Homo sapiens: one gene and its partners. The protein of the gene in region 7 purifies or fractionates together with the protein of the main gene of each other region. This does not show direct contact. Each region holds a gene or a part of one and is shown on either strand. Other genes may lie near its edges. The genes, in order: PPP1R10, GTPBP4, SULF2, SPATS2, SUMO3, NSRP1 and FAM98A.

Region 1 (3,500 bases), on a different chromosome or scaffold from region 7:
CATCACAACTTCCATCATCACAGAACATTGACTTACCTCATCTAGGGGGATGAGTTTAGGGGGTATGGGCTCGTAGGGCTCAGGATCAGGCTCATGAGGACTATCAGGAACAACACAGGTGAGAGAAAAAAGAATGATAGTCAAGTTATTAATTCAGACCCTGAAAGTAATTTCTAACCTCCACCCCGTAATTACCCCAGCTCATGTTCCCTCAGGAGTGTCCAAGCACTCAACATCCCAGGGCACGAACCCCACTCTGCTCACCTCTCCTTGTTCAGGAAGAGCTCCTGAAGGATTCCCTTCTCCCGCTCAGCCTGGATATATCGCTCCTGACTATTGCTTCCAGGGGTGACAAGAGGTGAGGGCAGAACCAGGGGCCGGGGGCACACCCAGGGCACCTTCTCCTCCATGTTATCATGGCTCAGACGCCGCGCTGTCTCAAATGCATGTCGGTCTGACAGTATCTCTCGCTTAGCCGCCTCACCAAAGTCCTTGATCTTATTCACATTTACTGTCGGCAGGGGAAGAAAAGCAAGAGGGAAAGTAAGCACAACCAAGTCCTTTCAAAATCCCTTAAACACACCTATTACGTAGGAAATGACCTCTTACCTCGTTCAGTTTCATCCAATTCAAAATAGAAATATTCTCTCAGTTTGCCTTCCTCAGGCCATGTCACACTTTTCCTCTTCCTGCCTTTCCGGGTCAGTTGGTTAGGATCTCCAGGACTCTCCACTGGCTTGGCATCCAGAGCTCCTGGCTCCAAAGAGGCTGGAAGCAGAAGAGGTTTCAGACCCAGATCCCTCCTTTCAGAAAACCCCCCAAACTGAACCAGTTTCTAGATTACCTGTATCCATGAGCTCCGGGACTTCAACAGGGGGAACCGGGGTGCCTGGACGGTCTGCGTCCATTGCCTCAGAAGGTGGTGCTGGTTCTGGGGAAGAAGGTTTGGCTGTGCTTGGTTCTGTGCTCGTTTTCCCTTCAAAGGGGCTTGGCTATTGTGAAAGAAAAGGAAGTTAATGAACTGACTGGAAAGCCAAGGGCAAGGCAATTAGTCCAGGGTCCCAGGCACAGTCCCCCAACAGTTCCTATATAAAGGAAGACTCTGTCTCCACAATGTCTCACCTGCACCAGTCTATATCCAAGGCAAAACGCCTCTTGTTGTCCTCCCCGACAACTCCTAGCTGCTGTGCCCTTTCTTCTACTTTACCTTTTATACTCTGTCACTGAAACCTACTTCTGGGAGCCCATACCTTGGCAGCCGTAGGTGACAGTACTTTTTTTTTCTTCTTAATTTTGATGCCTGGAACAGGGGCTGAATTAAGAGCATCCAGAAAGCCCAGGCCCTCCATAGCTACAAAAAGAAAGAGCACCAAATGGCATCATCAGACCTCCTTCATAATCCTACACCTGCAAACACAGTCCAGGCATAAAATGAGCCAGTGAAGACCCTGCCTCAACTTAGGACACGATAAGCTCAAGAGGACCAGGAAGCACATGCAGGAGGATTCACACAGGATATTCTTGTTGTTATTCTAGGTTTCTCATGGCAGGCAAGCCATAGCTTTGGATGTGAATTATAGCTCAGGTAGCTGACGAAGTGAGCCCTTGTGAACATGACAGATCACCTTACCAGGTGCCCCTGACCAGTCACAGAATGGCACACGTCCCTATCTTATCTCTAAAATTACTCCTAAGTGACCCCTGAAACGGGAGTTCCAGAGGTACAAAAAGTAAGGGATACCAAGAAATCAAAGGAAAATGGAGGGAAATAATAAAAGAGAAGGGAAAAAACTTCTCGTTCCCAGGGACATTCATTCCCATAAGAGTTTGCTCCTGGCCAGGTGCGGTGGCTCATGCCTGTAATCCCAGCACTTTGGGAAGCTGAGGTGGGTGGATCACGAGGTCAGGAAATCAAGACCATCCTGGCTAACATGGTGAAACCCCATCTCTACTAAAAATACAAAAAATTAGCCGGGCGTGGTGGCGGGCACCAGTAGTCCCAGCTACTCGGGAGGCTGAGGCAGGAGAATGGCGTGAACCCGGGAGGCGGAGCTTGCAGTGAGCCAAGACCGTGCCACTGCACTCCAGCCTGGGTGACAGAGTGAGACTCTGTCTCCAAAAAAAAAAAAAAAAAAGTTTGCTCCTAATTCAAAGTACATCTTCCCCACTTTAGACTCACGCTGTGGCGGGATGATCTTCACTTTGATCTCTTTGGTGGCATTAGGTGTTGTGTTGAGTGGCTTGTATTTCTTCTCTGCAGGGGGAGTGGCATCTCCTGGAGCAGCTACGTTGCTGTCAGAAGAGGAACTGTCATCAACATCTCCGACTCACCCCCTCCTGCTCCCTTGTGTCCACAGATCCACCCCATTCAGAGCCTGAGAATATGGTCCATACCTCTGACGTTTGAGGGGGATGGGTTTAAGGTTGTACTTGTCAGAAACCACCACTGTGCTGGCATTCTTCTTCACAGGCACCAAGGATGGTGTCTCCAGCTCTAGTCCTGGGGAAAGAAGCACGGTGTGGGCAGCTGAACTCAAACCCCAGACCCCCGAATTTTCCTCCCGTTCTCACCCGCAAATGTTCTTCTAGCCTTGTAACCAAAGCTTCCTCTGCTAGTCTTCCCTCTTCCTTACGATTAACATACCACACATCAAATGATTCCCCCATAAGGCTCTGGGTGTGCACATGCCCATGAACCCTCCAGAGGCCAGCCGCCAGTCTTACCAGTGGAACGGAACTTGGCATGACTGGGTGCTGTGGTGCGAAGAGACTTGGGCTTCTCCCTCTTCTTCTCTGGGGCCTCCTCAGCCCGGGTCTCAGCCTTCACCTCTGTCAAAGGTCGCTCAGGAAGGGTAGTTCGACTTTTTCCTTCATCTTTACGTTTCTTCTTATCTTTCTCTGTTGTGAAAAAACAAAGCAGAAAAGGATTTTATTTAGATGAACACTGTCAGAGGTGAAGCAGACTGGGAGCACCTAAAGGCCACATCCCAATAGGAAAGAAATAAATACAAAGGATAAAGGACTAAGGAGCTTACCAGCAGGCTGGGTACTGCTCTGAGAGCGGATGACAGCCATCCAGTCGCTGACAAGGACTGAGGCCAATTTCCGGAGCTCTGCAGGTGACAGAAAGGGGAAATGCCTAAATAATGTAAAGTAACATTCTTCCAGGAACAGAAAATGGGAGGTTTGAGAAAATATTGTGAAAATTTATGTAACGGAGAAAGTAACCCAAAGTTTTAAGAAGAACATGAGATATGCTTAAAAACCAAACCCTTAAAAAATGGAACAATGAATTAGAGTTGTGTTCTACTTGGATAACTTTCAACTCTGATGTCATCACACCACTCTGGAGTAAAAAGACCTAATATTTCAGAATATGTGGTTAAAATCTACATTAGTAAAAGACTACACGTTGGGTGCAGTGTACACTGCTTGGGTGATGAGTGTACCAAAATCTCAGAAATCACCATTAAAGAACTTATACATGTAACCAAAATCCA
Region 2 (3,500 bases), on a different chromosome or scaffold from region 7:
GGTGGCTCATGCCTGTAATCCCAGCCTTTGGGAGGCCGAGGCGGGTGGATCATGAGGTCAGGAGGTCAAGGTCACCCTGGCTAACATGGTGAAACCCTGTCTCTGCTAAAAATATAAAAAATTAGCCAGGCGTGGTGGCGGCCGCCTGTAGTCCCAGCTACTCGGGAGGCTGAGGCAGGAGAATGGTGTGAACCTGGGAGGTGGAGCTTGCATTGAGCAGAGATCACGCCACTGCACTCCAGCCTGGGGGACAGAGCGAGACTCCGTCTTAAAACAAACAAACAAACAAACAAACCAAAAAAAACACACTGGGCCGCCAGCAACCCACCCTACAGCTGGGATGCAACGGGACCCAGGAGGAGGTTCTCCCTACGGTGAGGGGGTAAGCAAGAGGATGGCAGCAGCCCTGCCACCACTCTGGACACCCACAGCCCTCACCACCGGAGCCCCCTGGCATCCTCACAGCTGTGCTCCCACACAGAAGGAGCTGACACTGGGCCCTGTCTGTTGGGCCCATGGGGCGGCTATACTCCATCATCTTGGGACTGGAACTGCGGCTGGAGTATGTCTTGCTCAGGGGAAGTGGCCACAGCTCCCCTTCATCCCTGAGGCTAAACTGCCTCCAAACTACCCAAACCTGGTGGCCCAACATCCCCAAGCCAGCTGTGAGCAGCTGCTACCCCTTCCCAGCAGGGCTTGGTGGAGGTGGAGCCCCTCTACTAGCCCTTGCTCTAGCACCCAACGGTACCCTGCCTCCTGGTAAATAGCACCGTGGCCTCTCAGGGAACGTTGTCTCCCTGCTGCCTGAGCTGAAGCAGTGCCCTGCTTCCTGGGAAATGCCCAGAATGGTCACATATCCCAGCGTCTATGCTGAAGAGGTACCTTGTATCCCAGGGCAACGGTGCCTGGGGCGCCCAGAAGAGTCACAACCCTCAGGCCCAGGCTGACCAGCCACATACCATGGGGAGGAGCTGACATTGTACTCCACACCCCAGGGAAACAGGGCAGGGGCTGAGCCGAGGCACCTGCCCCACCACGCAAACAGCTCCAGCACCTGCTCCCTGGAGCTGGACTAACCCTATATTCTGAGCTGCAGAGTCACCACTCTTTCCAGGAAATGGAGTCACTGCTGTCCTCCTCCCTGTCCTCTAGGGCCCAAATGACAGCTGGACTAGTCCATTCTGGGGTCCTTGCTGCCACCTCACCTAGCATCAGAGAGTCTGGGATACTGCTGGGCCCCACCATCCCAGGGTCCAGAGTTCCCCTTGAGCTGACACTAAGCCCTCCCTACTGGCTCAGGTTTCTGAAGTACAGCTCTACCCTGCTTCCCAGGCTCAAACCTCCAGAGTGCGTCTTCCCTGGAGTCAGGCCAGGACTGTGCCCTGACCCCACGGGTGGAGCCACAGCCACAGCCTTGCCCTGTGGGCTTAAGCTGCTAGGGGTGCTTCAGGATCAGAGATCCACCACAGAGAGTAAACCTGCACCCCAAGGCCAGGCCATGATAGGCACACAAGACCCTAAGGCTAGGACCCCAGTCCCACAGCTACCCTGAGTACCTGTAGCTGAAACCCAGCACTGTGGCAGCTGCTTGCAGACCATGTCAGACCTGACACCAAGAAAGATCCCCTCAGATAAGTCCCCCATTGCGGGAAAAACAAGAATAGCAGGACCCCAAAAGCCCCTGACACCAAGGACCTTAAAAACATACACCACCGCTGGCACAAACTTCCAGAGCTGAGGCCACTGAGCCACCCAGTTATTGCCAACATTTCATGGAGGTGAGGAAGCTGCACAGAAACAATGTCACTGCTCCTATCCAGAAAGTCACGGTTCTCTTCCCAAATGGCACAGTAAAACCCAAGTGAGGTGAAAACCTCTCCATGAAAGCCACTCTAGAAGAAAGTATAAAAGAGGCTCCTGTTCTACCAGATGCAGAGACATCAATGCAGGGACACAAGAAACATGAAAAAGCAAGGAAATAAGAAATCATGAAAGGAATATTAACTCTCTAGGAACAGACTCTAATGAAAAGGAAATCAATGAATTGCCAGAAAGAGAATTCAAAATAATAATTTTTTTGAAGGAAACTCAATGAGAAACAAAATACAGATAGATAATTCAACAAAATCAAGAAAACAATTTCATGATATGAACAAGAACTTAAACTGAGACAGAAATTGTAAAAAAGAGTCAAACAGAAATCCTGTAGCTGAAGAATTCAATGGATGAGATAATACAATAGACAGTTTTAACAGCACACTGGATGAAGCAGAAAAAAAATCTCTGTCATTTGAAACTACCTAGTCAGAGAGAAAAAAAGCAGGAAGAACGAAAAAGAATGAAGGAAGCCTATAAGATTTATGGGACAACATTAAGTGAATACATGCTGGCATTATGGGAGTTCAAGAAGGAGAAGAGAAGGGAAAAGGCTTAGTAACCTATTTAATGAGATAGCTGAAAACTTTCCAAGACTGGGGAGAGGTATAGACATCTAAAACCAGGAAGTTCAAGAATTCCCAAATAGAGTCAGCCCAGAAAGGTCTTCCCCAAGGCACATTATAGTCAAACTGTCAAAAGTCAAATATAAAGGAAATTCTAAAAACAGCTAGAGAAAAGCTTGAAGTCACATATAAGAAAATCCCCATTAGACTAACAGCAGATTTCTTTGCAGAAACCTTGCACGCCAGGAGACAATGGGATGATATATATTCAAAGTGTTGAAGAAAAAAAAGAAGACTGCCAGCCAACTATATTACATCCAGCAAAGCTATCCTTCAGAAATAAGGGAGAAATAAATTCTTTCCGAGAAAAGCAAAAACAGAGAATTCGTCACTACTAGACCAGCCTTACAAGATATACTTAAGAAAGTCCTACATCTGGAAGCGAAGACAATAATCACTATCATGAAAACATGAAAAAGTATCCAAGAAATTCACTTAACCTGTAAAGACATTAAGACACACATAGACTGAAAATGAAGAGATGCAAAAAGATATTCTACGCAGATGGAAACTAAAAGCAAGTAGGAATAGCTATACTTCTATCAGATAAAGCAGATTTTAAGTCAAAAACAATAAAAAGAGACAAGAAGGTCATTATATAATAATAAAAGGGGTCAATAATATTTGGGGACATCAACATCAGACTCGCAACATTAGACAGATCCTAGGCAAAAAAGAATCAACAAATACTGGATTTAAAGTGCACTGTAGGCCAGGCGCAGTGGCTCACGCCTATAATCCCAACACTCTGGGAGGCCAAGGTGGGCGGATCACTTGAGGTCATAAATTCAAGACCAGCCTGGCCGGTATGGTAAAACCCTCTCTACTAAAAATACAAAAAATTAGCTCGGTGTGGTGGCGCACGCCTGTAATCCCAGCTACTCAGGAGGCTGAGGCAGGAGAATCACTTGAACCTCAGAGGTGGAGGCTGCACTGAGCCGAGACCGTGCCACTGCACTCCAGCCTCAGTGACAGAGCGAGACTCCATCTCAAAAAAAA
Region 3 (3,500 bases), on a different chromosome or scaffold from region 7:
GTTGGGTTGGAGCGGGGAGCAGGCAGTGGGGAAGGAGAATTCCAGGCAGAGAGAGCTAAGTGGACAGGAGGCTGCTCGCCAGCGCACACAGCTCAGGGCTTCACGCAGAACTCAGAGCCCTGGCTTTTCTTGAAAAATCAGACCTGGGCTTCTGGGCCTGTGCTCCCCTCTGGCGACAGTCAGATGGGTATAGCCGGTCACAGTGCCCACTTTAGCCTCCCCAGGTCCCCCAGGCGCTTCTGGGCTGGCCTCATTCAGGGCCATGCCTGCTGGCCCATCAGTCTACTTCTGCACTAAGGAATCCAGGTTGCTGGAAGGGCCTGCATGCATTGAAGGGGATGGGAGGGTGGCAGGGCGCTGTGAATGCAATTAGATTCAGCCTCCAGGTGAGAACAGATGGGCGGGACAGGGGCAAGATGAGCAGGTGAAAGGCACCAGGGCCTTCAACGGCAGCGGGCGGGGGCAGACGGTGCAGCAGAGGGTTGGGGGGGATGGTGGCACCAGACTCCACACTTTTCCTTACAGCTCTTGCACCTCCCAGTTGTGTGACCCAGGACACATCTCTCTACCTCCGTGTGCCTCATCTTGAATCGGCACAGTAATGACAGCACCTGCCTCGTAGGGTAGCGTGAGGTGTAGTAAGCAAGTTAATATATTAACACACAGTGCTTGGCACATGCTAAGTGCTGGAGAGACACAGGGAACAGATCTGACCCATGGCCTGGAAAGGTCACTTTGGCACAGAATAGGCCCTAAAGAGTCACTGGGTCAATGGGCTGGAGCAGCTGTGGACAGAAGGGAAGAGAATCCAGTTTACAGGTGGTTGCAGAATCCCGTGAGGGGATCCAGGAGGCTGGAACTGGGGAAGAGCAGAAGGATCAACACGAGAGATTTGGACAGTGATTCTATCTACATTCAGCGTCTGACCACAGGCCTGGAGTTGAGTGCACACGTGGAGCCTCTGCACACACTGCACTGATTGAGTCTGGGAAGGTGGTCAGGGGAGACCTCCTTGCGCTGGAGCAGACGGGAAGGAAGAGAAGCCTCCAGCAGCAGGAAGGGCTGGAGAAAAGGCATTCTAGGCAGAAGGAACAGTGAGCGCCAAGTCCCTGGGGCAGCAGCCCACAGGGGATACTGGAGAGAGGGCTGAGGGAGAGGAGGACCGATGGGTAGGCCAGGGCCAGATTGCAGAGGATGTTCAAAGACTAGTATCAGGAGCTTGGGTCTTGTCTTAAAGACAGTGGGAGCCATTGAAGGGTTTTAAGTAGGAGAGTAATATGATCCAACTTGCCCTTTAAAAAGATTCCTCTAGCTGCCATGTGGGTGGATTTTAGGAGCAGACAGAAGCAGGTAACCGTGAGAGTGGTGGCTGTCGGAGGCATCTCGCTGGGGGATGATGGTAGCTCTGCCCAAGGTTCAAGCAGTGGCAGTGGAGAGAAGCGGCATTGGAGATAGCAGAGGTGGGGCTCGGTAACAGCTGGATGCAAGCAGGGAGAGGGATGTCTCCAGGGTGGATGGGGGTGGCAGGGGAGAGGCGGGTTTAGGGGAGCAGATGAGCAGCTGGCCGAGGCCCTGGCATGTCTTTCAGAAGTGGCAGTGTGTGGAGGACGCCACGGGGAAGCTGAAGCTGCATAAGTGCAAGGGCCCCATGCGGCTGGGCGGCAGCAGAGCCCTCTCCAACCTCGTGCCCAAGTACTACGGGCAGGGCAGCGAGGCCTGCACCTGTGACAGCGGGGACTACAAGCTCAGCCTGGCCGGACGCCGGAAAAAACTCTTCAAGAAGAGTAAGTGTCACAACCTGGCTGAGTGGGACAGGAGGAGAGAGACCATGCCTGGGGGGCCCCATTCATTCACTCCGACAGTTCCACAGAGACTGTCACTTTGCCAGGTGGTGATCTAGGGGCTGGGGACACAGCCACATCTCCTCACGAGCCACCCATTCTAGTGGGGAGCAGTAGTAATAAACAGATAAGGCCAGGCGCAATGGCTCACGCCTGTAATCCCAGTACTTTGGGAGTCCGAGGCAGGCAGATCACCTGAGGTCAGGAGCTCCAGACCAGCCTGGCCAACATGGTAAAACCCCGTCTAAAAATACAACAATTAGCCAGATGTGGTGGCTCACGCTTGTAATCCCAGCTACTTGGGAGGCTGAGGCATGAGAATCGCTTGAACCCAGGAGGCAGAGGCTGCAGTGACCCGAGATTGTGCCACTGCACTCCAGCCTGGGCAACAGAGCGAGATCCATCTCAAAAAAAAGGAAGAAACACACATACAAGGTTCTGTATTGATTGGCTGGTGAAAATGCTAGGACCAGAGGTTCACAGGAACCCAGCTCTGTGCTTCCCCTAGGAGCCATGTTTCAGCGTTCAATTAGTCAGTGTTTGTGGTGAGTTTATAGAACTACCCTGGGCTGGGCGCGGTGGCTCACACCTGTAATCCCAGCACTTTGAGAGGCCGAGGTGGACAGATCACTTGAGGTCAGGAGTTCAAGACCAGCCTGGCCAACATGGTGAAACCCCATCTCTACTAAAAATACAAAAAATTAGTTGGGCGTGTGGTGTGGCAGCAGAGTCGCTTGAACCCGGGAGCAGAGGTTGCAGATAGCTGAGATCACGCCATTGTGCTCCAGCCTGGGCGACAGAGTGAGACTCGGTCTCAAAAAAAATAAAAAATAAACTACCCTGAAGAACAAAAATAGACTATAGTTGAGTGGGGAAAAGCCTCACTCAGCTGAAGAAGTGTCTACACCTTCACACCTCATTCTCGGCAAGGGCCGAGGAGAGGACAGTCAGACAGAAGCCAGGGAGCAGGCGAAGTGGAGAGAGGGACTCTTCTAGACCCAGCCAGAAGGCTCAGCCGCCACCCTGGGCCATCGCTTCACCATTCTGAGGCTCAGCTCCCACCATCAAACAGGAAGAATGGTCCCTGCATGACTTTAAAACAAGAATGAGCCTGTGCCCTGAAAATGTGTGGAGGCGTCGGGGTCCGCCGGCTAGAAGTGTGCCCTCCAAGGCTGGGCAGCTTCCCACGTAGCCCATTTCTCTGGCCTAAGGACAGCCAAAGCCTAATGAGAGATTTTAGGTGTTGTTTTTAAAAAAAATTATGGTGAAATTCCCATAAAATTTATCATCTTAACCATTTTTAAGTATCCAGTAGTGTCAACTATATTCCCACTAGTACGCAACCTATCTGCTAAATGAACTCTTCATCTTGCAAAACTACAACTGTCCCCATTCAACGTTATCTCCCCATTCTCCCACCCCGCTCCCACCCCCACCCCGTTCTCCCACCCCGCTCTCCCACCCTGCTGTCACCCCATTCTCCCACCCGTTCTCAGCAACCACTCTTCTTCTCTATGAGCTTGACTGCTTTAGGGGCCTCATGTAAGTGGAATTGTACAGTATTTGTCCTTCTGTGGCTGGCTTATTTCTCTTCGCATAATGTTCTCCGGGTTCATCCACATGGTAGCCTGTGTTGGAATCTCCTTCCTGATCGGGCAC
Region 4 (3,500 bases), on a different chromosome or scaffold from region 7:
TTCCTAAATAACCACCTTCCCCAATGAGAAAAACATGTTTTTATAGATTTTTGGAAAAAAAAGGATCCTGGTCAAGATGGAATAATAATAATTGGATTTATTCTTCTATCTTAAACAACTAAAAACATACAAAGACAAAATATATGAAACAATGGTTTTCAGACAATGTGTAACAGGTAGTACTTTTCCCGAGACAACAGAAACAAATGAAGTGAGGCCTATGATTGCCCCAACTTGCTGCCTCAATAGTTTCTAGGCTACAATGCAGGGAGGAGAAATCCTCAACAGCCTGGTGGACCCCCTGAATTGAAGGGACAAAGTTGGGAATTTGGAAAGGCCAAGATGGCTGAAATTCTGGGGCAGAGTATTGGTGAGGAAAGAGCTACACACATGAGAGAGCTGCACGGAGATCCACAGAGGATTCTGAGTGTGGACCAGTGCATGAGTATAAAGAAACTACCCAAGACTGGAAAGACAACAGGCAAAAAAAAAACAAAACAAAACCAAAGAACCACCAAAAAACAAAACAAAACAAAACAAAACAAAACAAAACAAAACAAAACAAAACAACCAGGCAGAACAATCCCCAGAGCTCACCAGGCCAGGGACAGTTTGTGCTCACACCAGCCAGAGTGGAAAAACCTCACAATATATGGCAGGCAGAGTAGTTGGAAGGATACTGCCTCAGCAACAGGGCAAAATTATTTCTAGACTAAAGGCTGCTCTAGTCCCACCTAAAAAAGCTTAAAAGAAACAGAAAAATATGACCTATAAGTAAGAGAAAAAATCAATCACAGAGGCAGATGCGGAAATGACACAGATGATAGAATTGAGTAGAAAAGGACATCAAACAGCTATTATAATTAGATACTATAGGGCCAGGTGTGGTGGCTCACGCCTGTAATCCCAGCACTTTGGGAGGCCAAGATGGGTGGATCACCTGAGGCCAGGAGTTCAAGACCAGCCTGGCCAGCATGGTGAAACCCTGTCTCTACTAAAAATACAAAATTAGCTGGGTGTGGTGGCACGCACCTGTAATCCCAGCTACTCGGGAGGCTGAGGCAGGAGAATCACTGGGAGGCGGAGGTTTCAGTGAGCTGAAATCACACCATTGCACTCCAGCCTGGGTGACAAGAGTGAAACTCCATCTCAAAAAAAAAAAAAAAAAAAATAGATACCATATGTTCAAGAAGGTAGAGGAAAGCATAAGCGTGGTAAGAAGAGATATGGAAGATATCTTAAAAGACCCCAGTTGAACTTCTAGAGACAAATAAAACAATGCCAGAGACATATACTGCATAGAATTAACAGCAGAATAGAAACTGTTAACAAAAGATGAATACAGTTGAAGACAGCAGTTTTACAAACTATCCAAAATGAAATGAAACACACAGAGAAAAAAGACTTTAAAAAAGGTACCAAATTTTCAAAATTCCTTAAGTTACAGGATTTAATAGAATATAATTCACCATGTGGACATTACAAAATTAAAATGTTCTGTCTGTATAGTACACTTCAAAGCACTGTATATATGAGGAAGCCAGCTTTGTAGAAAAGGATGGACTGCATTTACCTACTCAACACATTTTAACCAATTTCCAAGAGTTCTATTTACCTTTCTATATTCACCAATCCCCAAATTACATATATAATTGATTGCTGGAAACATGGATCTAAAAAGTTTGTAACTATGCCAAGATATGCATTTCCAATTTTTTTATTTAAATTCTTCCTCATCTCAACTTGATTTTATTTTTTAGAATCCACCTAAAAGCTTTCAAGCCTTGTGCGCATATATATATATATATATATATATTTTTTTTTTTTTTGGCTTGATTGGATAGTCTCAAACCTGCTGATCTGCAACAGGCTGAGGGCTACCAGAACAATGAAAAAGGGGAGCTTACCTAATTAAAATTTGGCTCATGTGTAATAAATAATTCCATAAAGAGCTACTGATTACAAGTGTCCTTTATATTTCTATGTTTCATTTGTTTAGTGGAGTGGACCACCATGCTTAGATGTATGAAACTCAGATATAGGAAACACAGGGTATTATCTCTGTCTGCTGAATTACTGGCTGTTTGTTTAAATGATTATTGTAGTTTTCTTTTTTTTTTAAGCAAAGAGCTATCACCAGTCAACGCCACATACTTAAGAGAAAATGACCTTACTTTTTCTAAGCTAGAGTCTGTCAGAGGACTCTAGCTCAGTAAGAGCATGAAGTTATGAAGAGGAGTGAAAATATTTCTTTAAAATGTCAATGTTGGCTGGGCGCAGTGGCTCACGCCTGTAATTCCAGCACTTTGGGAGGCCGAGACAGGCGGATCACGAGGTCAGGAGATCGAGACCATCCTGGCTAACACGGCGAAACCCCATCTCTACTAAAAATACAAAAAAATAGCCGGGCATGGTGGCACTCGCCTGTAGTCCCAGCTACTTGGTAGGCTGAGGCAGGAGAATGGCATGAACCCGGGAGGCGGAGCTTGCAGTGAGCCAAGACTGCGCCACTGCACTCCAGCCTGGGGGACAAAGTGAGACTCAGTCTCGGGGGAAAAAAAAAAAAAAAGTCAATGTCAGAGAAGGTAGAGCTTTTACTTGTTGGGTCAACCAGAAGATAAAAATGAAAGAAATAGCACCAAAACGTTGCAATAAAGCAAATAAAGAAACAGGTTAATGTTAGCAGGTAAATCATTCTGGCAGTAGAGTTTGACTTTAATTCACAAAACGTGCCGTCGTAAGTAGATTGTACAGCATTTAAACTACTTTCAGACTCCAACTGTGTACACAAAGGTTAGGGGAAGGGCTGAGTAGTCAGTCACTGTCTGGAAAATGGAAAAATATTAACTGATGCCCTTCTGAAACCTTATTTATGGCAACAGAGATAATTTGCCCTCTTTAGCCAAAAACACAGATTTTTCATTTTCTCTCACAGGTGGGCCTCTGACTTACTTAGCTTTTTACTGGTGGCGAGGGGAACATCTTCCATCCCCATATTTGAAAACTGAGTTTCTGTGGTAGGTCTTGAGAGAGATTTGGCAGCATTCCTGGGTTGTTGAGAATTGTGAATAGAGTGCATAGTCAAAGACTTGGTCTCAAAATCAGAGACACCATTCTGCAGCATGGATCCTGTCCAAGAAAGAGGACTGTACTTTAGAGCACAATTTAGGAGTAAACCAGTCATTCTTAAGTACACAAAGAAAACAGGTAAAAATGTTTGAGGCAAAACCATGCCTCTTAAAAGACTGTAAACAAAATCAACTGAAACAATAGAACAAAGATCAGAATCAGCTGGGTATGGCTATCGGCAGCTTCGGGCTTAGTCTTAAGTGGCGTCCGGAATGAAGAGAAGAGTCTGTGGCAACACATCTTTAGATAGGGAGCTCAATCCCTGTGGCTCTGTGGCTTCTTTGTAGCTTGGTAGTTTCTATGTAAGTCTGGCACAAGGAATCAAAGAAAGTCAGTATCACCAACTTCTGCAAGCCTCCATGTTAAGAAAA
Region 5 (3,500 bases), on a different chromosome or scaffold from region 7:
CCCTGTCTCAAAAAAAATAAGTTGCTACTGAGAAAAAAAGAACACTCAAAGAACAGAAAGAAAAAAGAACTTTTGGAAATTAAAAATCATGACAGAGATGAGAATGTCCACAGGAAGTGGAAAGATAAAGTTGAAATGACCTCCCGGAAAGAAGCCCAAATGCAACAATAAAGCCCAAAGCAAAATGGGAGAAAAATTATCAAATTTAAAATATCTAGGACAATGAGCAGCAGGAGGAACAGGAACTCCAAAAAGAGGGAACAGAGTCTGGAGAAGGATACAAATTATCAGAGAACTAACATAAGGCATATTTCCTGAATAAAAATAAACGTCCAGACCCATAAAGTGCCCAGCAGCATGAGTGAGAAAATCACCCACCTCTGAGGCACATAAGGAAACACTGAATGCCAGAATATGGTCCCAGATACTTCCAGGGAAAAACCAAGTTACAAACAAAGCACAGAGAATCAGAATCCACTGAACTTCTCACCTTTTTTTTTTTTTTTTTTTTTTTGAGACAGGGTCTTGCTCTGTCACCCAGGCTGGAGCAGTGATATGACCTCAGCTCCCTGCAGCCTCCACCTCCTGGGCTCAAACAATCCTCCCACCTCAGCCTCCTGAGTAGCTGGGACTATAGGCTTGCACCACCACACCTGGCTAATTTTTTTAATGTTTCGTAGAGACAGGGTCTCCCTGTGTTGCCCAGGCTTGGCACTGAACTCCTGACCTCAAGTCTTGAATTCCTGACCTCAAGTGATCCTCCCACATCAGCCTCCCAAAGTGCTGGGATTACAGGCATAAGCCACCATGCCTGGTGAACTTTTCACTTTTAACATTGGGAGCTATTCTCATGGCTGACCTCTGAAATAAAAAAGAAAAAAAAGTTTCAACCGAGAATATTACGTGCAGCCACATACTGAAGTGTGAAGGTTTATAAAAGCAAAAGTCACGTTCAGCCATGCAGTGTCTCAAAGACGCTGCCCTTCTGTGCCCGTTCTGACAAGACCCTGGAGGATGTGCTCCACCACAAAACACAAAAGGGAGGAGGACTAATCCAGGAAACACCCAAGAGAGAACCCAAGTTTCTAGAAGGATTTGAACAGGAGGCCCTGGACCACGGCTGAGCAGCCAGCCTCACAAGCAGCAGTGCAGGTGGGGCAGGAGGGGAGCTCCGGGAGAGCAGGGGGAAGGGCAGAGCCCCCCCCACATGTACACGGCCCCACACGCCTGCCATCCCGCAGCGCAGAGGAGAACATGGGCACCCGGGAAGTCACACACACAGTGGCCACGAGCCCAGGCAGTACAAACTCCAGCAAGGGCCAGGGCCCAGCATCAGGCAGAGGCTGGATCACGGGGCCTACACGGCGCCAGGCCACTCACTCTGCTGGGAAGACCGGGACCTGCGTGTCTGGAAGCTCAGTCTCACCTTTCGCAGGTGAAAATAAGATCTGCCCTCAGCAAACACAAAGAAAGGAAGTCAGGGGCTGCTTGCCAATAAAGAATGCAAGGCAGTCGCCAGTGACTGCCCCTATGAGCAGGGTATCCAAAGTGGGAGGGAAAGAGGAGGAAATCTAACTGAAAATCCACAGGCAAAAGAGTAAAATAAAAGGGCAACGAGTTGCTGTATTTTCAAAGCGGCTGAAGAAAAGCAGCCTCTAGGTCCCACTCAGGCAAGCAGGGCTCCCTGGGGAAGGGCGCCTGGCTGCAGGGCCGGGCCCCCAACACACCAGGCAGCAGCTGGTGGGCAAAGCCCATAAAAGTGGCCTAGAGAGGGACCCCCTGGCCCAGGGTGAGTCCGCCACAGCGTTACCAAGAACAACAGACACACACACACCACGTCACAAACAGCAGCCAGAAGGCATCCACCCAGCTGGGCACTGCCAGTGGGGCAGCTCATTATCCTGAAACTGGGGAAGAAGGGGAAAGAATCACGCGCTTTCTTGCCTTTCCTAACAAAATGGAAAACCACACCGCACATGAGGGCAGTGTCTCTCCAGGGTCAGGCCAGCTCATACGCGAGGACAGGGTGACAGCGGCGTGGGGCACACGCCACCTGCAGCCCCAGAATGGCCAGACCTGAGCAGGGCCCCCAAGAGCCTTCAGCATCACAGACTTCACAGATGTTAGTACCCCATGGAGAACACAGCACCCCGGGCAGCCGCCCTGTCAGGAAGAAAAACCCACCACACTTCTCCGAGCCTCTAGGTCCCTCCACCTTATAAAAGGCCATGGGGGACAAGCCCAGCCTGGACTAATTTTACAGCACAAGCCCCCGCCTGCCCATCCACGAAGAGGGCACCTCGGGCAGCTGCATCTGGGTCCAGCCCCGAGACGCTCGTGCTCTGGGGATGCCTGGAACGCACAGGACCAGTGCGCACACGGGGAGGCTCTGCGGGGGAGCAAGGTGCCGCACCTGCCTCTCGCAGTAGGCCTTCATCAGCTTGCTCAGCGGCGTGTGCCTCTTGATCTTGAACTGCACCACGGAGCCGTCCTGCCCGGCCACCTTCAGGTTGATGTGGTCATTCTCTGTCTTCACACCCTCCTGCAGAAGACACCAGAGACTGGCCTCAAAACTGTGTCTCAAAATAACCGCGACTTGAATGGGCAAGTCTTTAGGTAATTGTTGGCTTTTTAAAGTCATCAAAACCAACCTAATTCTTAAAATTCTCCAGCAATTCAGAGTCACTCGTGATGGTTTTATTTTTACACAGAATTTATTTTTAACTTCCACTTGTTAAGCATCCATGTGTAAAACAATGCAAGCCTAGGGTCCTCTGACATTGTTAATTCAAAGAAAAAAACAAAGTCTAGGGAAAAATAAGAGAAAATCCATCTTTATTTTAAAGTTATTCTTGTGGGCTGGGCACAGTGGCTCACACCTGTTATCCCAGTACTTTGGGAGTTGACGTGGGAGGATGGCGTAAGCCCAGGAGTTTGAGACCAGTCTGGGCAACAGAGCAAGACCCCATCTCTTTTTTAAAAAATTCTTATGAAACCAGTAAAAACACATATCCAAAAGTCATGCAGCTATACAGCACTAGTAAAAGAAACCAAAAACAGAAGAAAACATTTGTGACTCAGAGGAACCCTATGGGACATTCAAGTGGTGATTTCGGGAATCCAACTGAGGACGGCCACTCCCCACAGCAGGCGGCCAGGCTCCTTCTCGCTGCCCTGACATCAGCAAATGTGAGGGAAGCCACCTCCGAGTACTTTCTGGTTTCAAACTGTCCTATCTGAGCGGCAGTAGGTGGTACTATTTTATTTTTTAATTCATGCCATACTTGAAGCTACTCAACAATGGCACAATCGGGGTGTCTTGTTGCCTGAAAATGCATTTTGAGTTGAGGCAAAAAGCTGATGTCAAGAGACTGGGAGCCAACTTCGGGGCAGCTCAGTCTGAGCCGAAAAGTGGGGCACCCCTCTGCCGGCCTGCACTGCTGGGATAAAGTCGTTTGTGAGTGAAGCAATGAGGCAGGGCCCTCCGGCTCACTCTGAAA
Region 6 (3,500 bases), on a different chromosome or scaffold from region 7:
TCCTCTGTGTTTGAAAATGTTCTGTATTGATACAAAAATTAGCCGGGCATGGTGGTGTGCACCTGTAGTCCCAGCTACTCAGGAGGCTGAGGCAGGAGAGTCACTTGAACACAGGAGGTGGAGGTTGCAGTGAGCCAAGATGGTGCCACTGCACTCCAGGCTAGGCAACAGAGCAAGACTCCGAACCCCCCCCCCAAAAAAAAAGAAAAAAGAAAATGTTCTCTATGTGTCCATTGGGCCAGTTGTGTTAATCCATATATATTCATACTGTTTTTTTTTGTTGTTGTTGTTGTTTTGTTTTGTTTTGTTTTGTTTTGTCTGTTCTGTTACTGAGAGGCATATGTTAAATCTCCCACTGTGATTATGGATTTGTCTATTTTTCCTTGAATATCTGTTCAATTTTTGCTTTATTTATGTTGCAACATAGTTAATAGTAACATATCTACTCAAGTGCTCCCCTACAGCTCTCCTCCCAACATATACAAAGGCATGTCATCAGTTTAAAACAGCCCTGGCCGGGTGCAGTGGCTCATGCATGTAATCCCTGTACTTTGGAAGGCCAAGGTGGGTAGATCACGAGGTCAGGAGTTCGAGAACAGCTTGACCAACATAGTGAAACTCCGTCTCTACTAAAAATACAAAAAATTAGCCAGGCATGGTAGCAGGTGCCTGTAATCCTAGCTACTCAGGAGGCTGAGGCAGGGGAATCGCTTGAACCCAGGAGGCGGAGGTTGCAGCGAGCCAAGATCCTACCACTGCACACCAGCCAGGACAACAGTGCAAGACTTCGTCCCCCCCCCCCCAAAAAAAAAACAGCCCTCAGTCTCCCTTTTTCCTTGCTTTTTGTTATTGTAGTGGTGATTATTTCTTAGATTCCATGTTTCCCTCTTTGTGTTATCCAGGCTGGTTTTGGGGAGTGAGCAGGAGTGCCAATTCAACATCTAGGCAGGAGAATCTTTCACTTTCTAAAGGTTGAGAAGTGAAAAAAATGAATTTCTTAATATTTTAAACAATATTCTAGAAAAAAAGTTTTTCAGTTAGCATGTGCATTATTCAGAGTTTAAATGTTGGTATGTAAAAACCCTAGTCTATCAGATAGATTCTTTTGAATAATTATATCATCCTATCACTTAAAAAGGATCCCTCTTGGGTTCTACATTAGCCAATCTAGCAATTGAGGAAAAAATCAAAGTGTGTAGACTCTGTACCTCAGGAATTTACAACCGGGGGCAAAAGGCTAAGATTTGTAAAACAGGAAGTAAAAACGCCCATGCCTGGCATGGTGGCTCACGCATGTAATTCCAGCACTTTGGGGGGCGCTGAGGTGGGTGGATCATTTGAGCCCAGGAGTTCAAGACCAGCCTGAGCAACATGGTGAAACTCTGTCTCTACAAAACATATAAAAATTAGCCAGGCATGGTGGCACACGCCTGTAGTCCCAGCTACTTGGGTGGCTGAAGTGAGAGGATCACTTGAAGCCTGGGAGGCAGAGGTTGCAGTGAGCCAAGATCACACCACTGGCACTCCAGCCAGTGCGACAGAGCGAGACCCCATCGCTTTAAAAAAAAAAAAAATCTAGTGTAAATATTGCAGAATAGAATGTTCCTCAGAGTTTAGAAGAAAGATCATTGGGGGTTAGAGGCCTCAGAAATGGGCTCATAGAAGAAGTAGGGCTGGCCCTGAAACACTGGGTAAGATTTTGATCGCTTGAAAGAGGAGAAAAAAACATCATTTGAGATGGAAGGAACATGATAAAGGCAGAGACTTTATGTTTAACAACTCTAAAAATGATAATGAAAGTTTAATATATAATACAGGCCTCTCAAAACCAAGGTTAGGTGTTTCCATCGTACCTTTTGACCTTTTGATGGGTATAATTATATACAAATGAATAAATGATAATAATAGTTGATGTTTATTGAATACTTATTCTCTATCAGGCTCTGTTTTAAGTTTAGTCATTTAATTATAACAGCTTAGAATGTAAATATAGTCATTATTCTTTCTCTTCTAGATGAGGAAATTAAGGTACCAAAAGATTACAAACAAACTTGCCCGGAGTAATTAGTAAGTGTAGAGCCAGCATTCATACCCAGGCAGCCTGGCTCCAGAGTTTATTTGTATTTCCTATCTAAAAATGTGATTGTAATTTTTATGATATATTTTCAATTTATGAACCATTCTCAAAAAGCATAGACTTTGTTGTATCTATTGGCTGGCTCATATTTTTGAAACATGTTTAATTTTTTTTTAAGACCAAACTGGAAATCCAGAAGGCCCTTGCAGAAGATGCTACTGTGTATGAATATGACAGTATTTATGATGAAATGCAGAAAAAAAAGGAGGAAAATAATCCCAAATTGCTTTTGGGGAAAGACAGAAAGGTTTGTAAGCTGAAATAACAAACTTTCTTTGACCTTGACCTACATTTTGTGTCTTAATCTTATTTTAACATGAGAATGATCTGAGAAAAAGCTTTTAGGTATGTGAGGTGTGAAGAGTCCCTAATTCCAGATATTACAAATTTGATTGTAGAACTCAAGCAGCACTACATATTATCCTAATAGGCCAGGTGAATTATCTAACAATTTTGCTTTTTGCTTTGAAACCTTTGCAAATAGTTTTTTGAAAACTTTTCCTTGGAATTCTAATGTACCAAATTTGTACTGTTCCTGCCCTGTGTATGTTTATTTGTGTTTTATTACCCTCTCATTTTTTCATTTCTTCCTAGCTGGTAACTGAATCATCTGCCTGCACCTATCATGATTTTATTTTCAGTGAGAAAAAAATTTGGGAGGGGTAAAAACTGAAATAAGTTCAGATTTTCTTTCTATCAACTCTTGTTCTTTCACAAGCACAGGCTGATTTTTAAGGGCATTTGCATCTGACAGTTATCTACTAGTAGAGTGATGGTATAAAATTATATTAAGCTACTATTTTAAATAGTCATATTTCTACTAAATGTGAAAAACTAGCAGGAACTTTTCTGATTTTTTTTTAATTAAGATAATACCAGAAAAAAGAAAAAAATTATATTTAGTTTGATGTTTTATTAAAGTTAAATCGCATTATAAACAATTTCTATCTCTGCTACACCTAAATTTTTATGGAAAACAGTTTCAATATTAATCTTGCTAGTAAGTTTATATTGAATGTAGGGAAGACAATCTTATTTGGGCCAATCATTTCTATCTTAATGAATTCATTATAAAAATTATAATATTAACAATTACTATTTTTTTACTCTTTTCCTAAATCTTTTTTATTTCCTTAGCCCAAGTATATTCACAACTTGCTAAAAGCAGTTGAGATCAGAAAAAAGGAACAGGAAAAAAGAATGGAAAAGAAAATACAGAGAGAACGAGAAATGGAAAAGGGGGAGTTTGATGATAAAGAAGCATTTGTGACATCTGCATATAAGAAAAAACTGCAAGAGAGAGCTGAAGAAGAAGAAAGAGAAAAGAGGGCTGCTGCACTGGAAGGTAAAATGAAAGAGTGGG
Region 7 (3,500 bases):
GTTGAAGGTATAAATATTCAATCTCATTCCTTTAACATTCCCAAGGACATTTCAATTTTTATAAAAGATGATTAAGAATCATTTGAATCTTAGGATTTCTGGTTATGTGACAAAGTGAGATTCTTCTGACAATATAACAAAACCAGTTTTGGGAAAAGATATTTTCAAGGCCCTCAGGTCCTATTAGAAGTAGAAAAAAGTCAACTTGTGTATCAAATTTCCTATACCCAAAATGTAATGCTAGAAGGACAGAGGCCATAATTTTGGCAAATCATTTCTGAAAGGCTGCCAACTCCTGTTCTAAAACAATAAATACAGCTAAGTTTCTGGAAAGGTCATTCTAAATGGATTTGACACTGTAAAATCTTAACATGTTCCATACAGCAAACTGTATTTATGAGTTAAAACGTCAAAACAGTAAAACCCCACTGTTAAGACAACAACCACTGTTTTTGTACATAAGGTTTCATTAGGACACTGCCACACTCACTCATTTATATATTGTCTATGGCTGCTTTCATGCTGTAACAGCAAAGGTATGTAGTTGTGACAGAGAACTTAGGGCCACAAAGCCAAAAATATTTACTATCTGGCCCTTTTAGAAAAAGTTTGCCAACTCTTGTTCTAGAAAATCATATACTATATGATTTAATATATTGGTTCTGTAAATTTGGGATAACATAGTTCAGGTATTCACAAAATTAGGTTACCAATATAATTATCATGAAAAAACTTTAATCGTAATCAGTATGTTCAAAGCACTGGGAAAGGCACTGAAGATAACATTTTTTAAAACATCAAAAAGATGACCTCTTCCGATAATCTAGTTAGGAATAAAGAGTATATGCAAAAATAAAAGATGAATAGTTCTTCATCTATTAGGAACTCAGACATCTTACTTAATTTACGTAAGGGCAACACTCTGAGAACCATAAAAGGCCAATGAAGAGCCAAACAGAGTCCTTAATCTGATACATGAGAGCTTTTCAGCCTCTCACTCAAAGGCTATTCTATTTTTCCAACAATTCTAATGAGGCTGGTTTGTTTTCCCCCCTAAAATACAATGTGATAAAAGATTCAAGTTAGTGAGGTAAGGGTGCTGGAAAAGTAAAATTATAGCATCCAGATGTGACAACTGATACTTCAAAAGATGAGAAATATTTACATAGACCAAGTCAAAAATGAGTACATGTAGGTAAATGCTAGAATGAAAGAGAGGTTACAAACTGGGGAGAATATTTTAGAAAGGGAGAATCGGCAGAAGCAAAGATAAAGAGGGAAACAGTGTGTATATATGTATGTATGAAGAATATAAAAAGTGAGTGACCTCTAGATGATTTAGTCATTTAATTGAAGAGCAAATAGTGGTATATTCTTGAAAAGCATTTGAGGTGATGATAGCAGATTAAAATAAAGTCTAGAATTATGACCCTGAGTCCAAAATAATGTTCACTGAAGTCTGCTTAAGAAACAGAAAAGTGTGAAAGGCATTTTATACTTACATTCAAGTGGTTTGTATAAGTATCAGTGCTAAAAAGGCCAAACTCTGAGCTCTTTGGAAGAATTAGCTATTCAGGGTCATTAGTAAGCATTCCACACAGCTATTATCTTCCTATGTAGATAACATATTCTAAGTGCCAAATATTGGTAAAGGATAAGCAATGCTATAAAGGAAGAATCAGCTGAGTATACTGCTATTGAATCAGTTACAGAAATTGTACAATATGAAGAATATTAAATGAATATGTAAGAACTACCAGCAGCAATATCAGTATCTAAAGCAACACCTAACCTTACGTGCACATTCCCACAATAACAATCATTTGACAGACAAAGGGGAAGTTACAAAAGTGATTCTGGAATAACTTAGTGCCTAAGTATAATGGCTATGAACACTTTTTTTTTTTTTAACAGAACCTTAAAAACTGAAGTTGTATAATTTTTTCAGAAACCATAATAGAGTTGTAAAAACAAAGATTTTAAAAATCCTCTGAATTGTCTGTCATAATGAGAACTATAATAGCCAGTTAACCAAAGCTTAATGTAAATGTGCTTCAGAATGCTACATAAATTCTGAGTTAAGACTATAGGTTGTATTTATTGGAAAGTTTATAGAAGGCAATAAAATTTTTGAATCTACTTACTGTTTTTCAGTGTGAAGAGACAAAACAGTAGTAAGTATGTAAAAAACATGGAAGGAAAGAACTTTTCATAAAAACTCATTTCTCAGAATAAGTACCAGAACAATGCAAGTATTATTCCAGAATATTTACAAACAAAACCAAAATCCCCAATTACCCAACCACAAAGAAATAGCAACAAGACAAAATACTTTAAATTACATTAACCATTAACTGTATCTACTATTATAAATGCTTACTCTCCTCAAAGAAATGAATTTCTAAACAAAATCTCCATTATTTCCATACTATCTTCCTAATATACTTAAAAATGTGCTTCTAGTCTAAAATGTAAGTTTAATGATCACACACTTGAGCAACACTCCAAAACTACCAGTGATCACATTAGGAGAAGCACAACGGCCTGAGTACCACTGAGGCTGAAATATTGAAAGAGTATCAGTTACAAAAACAATAATGCTACCAGTGCACACGTCTACCCTCAGCTCCTAAATTGGAAATTTAAGAAAGTTTTATTTTAAAATGAATTTTGAATTACATTCATAATGAAATAAACAAACAAAAAACCATGGTCAGTTTATTAGTCATGGAAAACATAAACAGAAAGTAATAGCTATATTCTAGTAGCCATGAACTTACTGAGCAAGAGGAGGCAGTTCTTCTGAATGAGAAGGCGCTTGGTCACATCCCCAGATGTCAGTGAAAGATACGGGCAGTTCATCTCCCCTAGTAGCCCACTCACCTCAAGCTGGAATTCTTCAGCTTCACTCGGACCTTTTAAGAATTAAAATAATCTTATTTAATGATAGTGATTATTTTTCCATTAGCATAACAATTATTATATATAATTGAAATTGTTAATAGGATTTTCATAACTTGAGTTTTTTCCCCTTCTAATTTATCCTTTCTTACACCACTGCAAAGTTTCTTCTTTTTTTTTCTTTTTTGAGATAAGGTCTCTGAGGCCTAGGCTGGAGTGCAGTGGTGTGATCAGGGCTTACTGTAACCTCAAACCCCTGGGCTTGAAGGATCCTCCTGTTTAAGTCTCCGGAATAGCTGGGCCTACAGGTGTATGCTACCATGCCTGGCTAATATTTAGAAAATTCTTTTGTAGAGACTAGGTCTCAGTATGTTGTCTAGGTTAGTGTCAAACTCCTGGCCTCAAGTTATCTTCCCACCTTGGCGTCTTCAAGTGCTGGGATTACTACAGGCATGAGCCACTGCTCCCAATCTAAAATTTTCTTTCTCAGTGTTCATTAGGTCATTCTCTTATTTGGGAGTCTTTAATGGTTCCCTAATTTCTCCCTCATCCAATCTGATTTTTTTCTGTCTGCTTTTAAAGATTCTTCATAGCTGCTT

Evidence for each region.
Region 1: the proteins of FAM98A (region 7) and PPP1R10 purify together in Homo sapiens (affinity purification with mass spectrometry, with the first as the bait; one large-scale study listed by BioGRID). This does not show direct contact.
Region 2: the proteins of FAM98A (region 7) and GTPBP4 purify together in Homo sapiens (affinity purification with mass spectrometry, with the first as the bait; one large-scale study listed by BioGRID). This does not show direct contact.
Region 3: the proteins of FAM98A (region 7) and SULF2 purify together in Homo sapiens (co-immunoprecipitation; one large-scale study listed by IntAct). This does not show direct contact.
Region 4: the proteins of FAM98A (region 7) and SPATS2 purify together in Homo sapiens (co-immunoprecipitation; 2 studies listed by BioGRID and IntAct, with this or other methods). This does not show direct contact.
Region 5: the proteins of FAM98A (region 7) and SUMO3 purify together in Homo sapiens (pull-down; one large-scale study listed by IntAct). This does not show direct contact.
Region 6: the proteins of FAM98A (region 7) and NSRP1 purify together in Homo sapiens (affinity purification with mass spectrometry, with the first as the bait; one large-scale study listed by BioGRID). This does not show direct contact.

What each region holds. Positions count from the first base shown.
Region 1 is NC_000006.12:30,603,744-30,607,243, forward strand, and holds part of PPP1R10 (serine/threonine-protein phosphatase 1 regulatory subunit 10), read right to left. Parts: intron 3,114-3,500; coding exon 3,036-3,113; intron 2,899-3,035; coding exon 2,725-2,898; intron 2,501-2,724; coding exon 2,395-2,500; intron 2,293-2,394; coding exon 2,180-2,292; intron 1,352-2,179; coding exon 1,251-1,351; intron 993-1,250; coding exon 845-992; intron 769-844; coding exon 610-768; intron 512-609; coding exon 265-511; intron 101-264; coding exon 37-100; intron 1-36.
Region 2 is NC_000010.11:1,001,934-1,005,433, reverse strand, and holds part of GTPBP4 (GTP-binding protein 4), read right to left. Parts: intron 1-3,500. UniProt on the Homo sapiens protein: Involved in the biogenesis of the 60S ribosomal subunit. Acts as a TP53 repressor, preventing TP53 stabilization and cell cycle arrest.
Region 3 is NC_000020.11:47,670,482-47,673,981, reverse strand, and holds part of SULF2 (extracellular sulfatase Sulf-2 isoform a precursor), read left to right. Parts: intron 1-1,588; coding exon 1,589-1,784; intron 1,785-3,500. UniProt on the Homo sapiens protein: Exhibits arylsulfatase activity and highly specific endoglucosamine-6-sulfatase activity. It can remove sulfate from the C-6 position of glucosamine within specific subregions of intact heparin.
Region 4 is NC_000012.12:49,496,462-49,499,961, reverse strand, and holds part of SPATS2 (spermatogenesis-associated serine-rich protein 2), read right to left. Parts: intron 3,130-3,500; coding exon 2,953-3,129; intron 1-2,952.
Region 5 is NC_000021.9:44,811,563-44,815,062, forward strand, and holds part of SUMO3 (small ubiquitin-related modifier 3 isoform 1 precursor), read right to left. Parts: intron 2,543-3,500; coding exon 2,414-2,542; coding exon of another isoform or gene 2,300-2,413; intron 1-2,299. UniProt on the Homo sapiens protein: Ubiquitin-like protein which can be covalently attached to target lysines either as a monomer or as a lysine-linked polymer. Does not seem to be involved in protein degradation and may function as an antagonist of ubiquitin in the degradation process.
Region 6 is NC_000017.11:30,175,816-30,179,315, forward strand, and holds part of NSRP1 (nuclear speckle splicing regulatory protein 1), read left to right. Parts: intron 1-2,255; coding exon 2,256-2,384; intron 2,385-3,274; coding exon 3,275-3,482; intron 3,483-3,500. UniProt on the Homo sapiens protein: RNA-binding protein that mediates pre-mRNA alternative splicing regulation.
Region 7 is NC_000002.12:33,589,300-33,592,799, forward strand, and holds part of FAM98A (protein FAM98A), read right to left. Parts: intron 2,916-3,500; coding exon 2,781-2,915; intron 1-2,780. UniProt on the Homo sapiens protein: Positively stimulates PRMT1-induced protein arginine methylation. Involved in skeletal homeostasis. Positively regulates lysosome peripheral distribution and ruffled border formation in osteoclasts.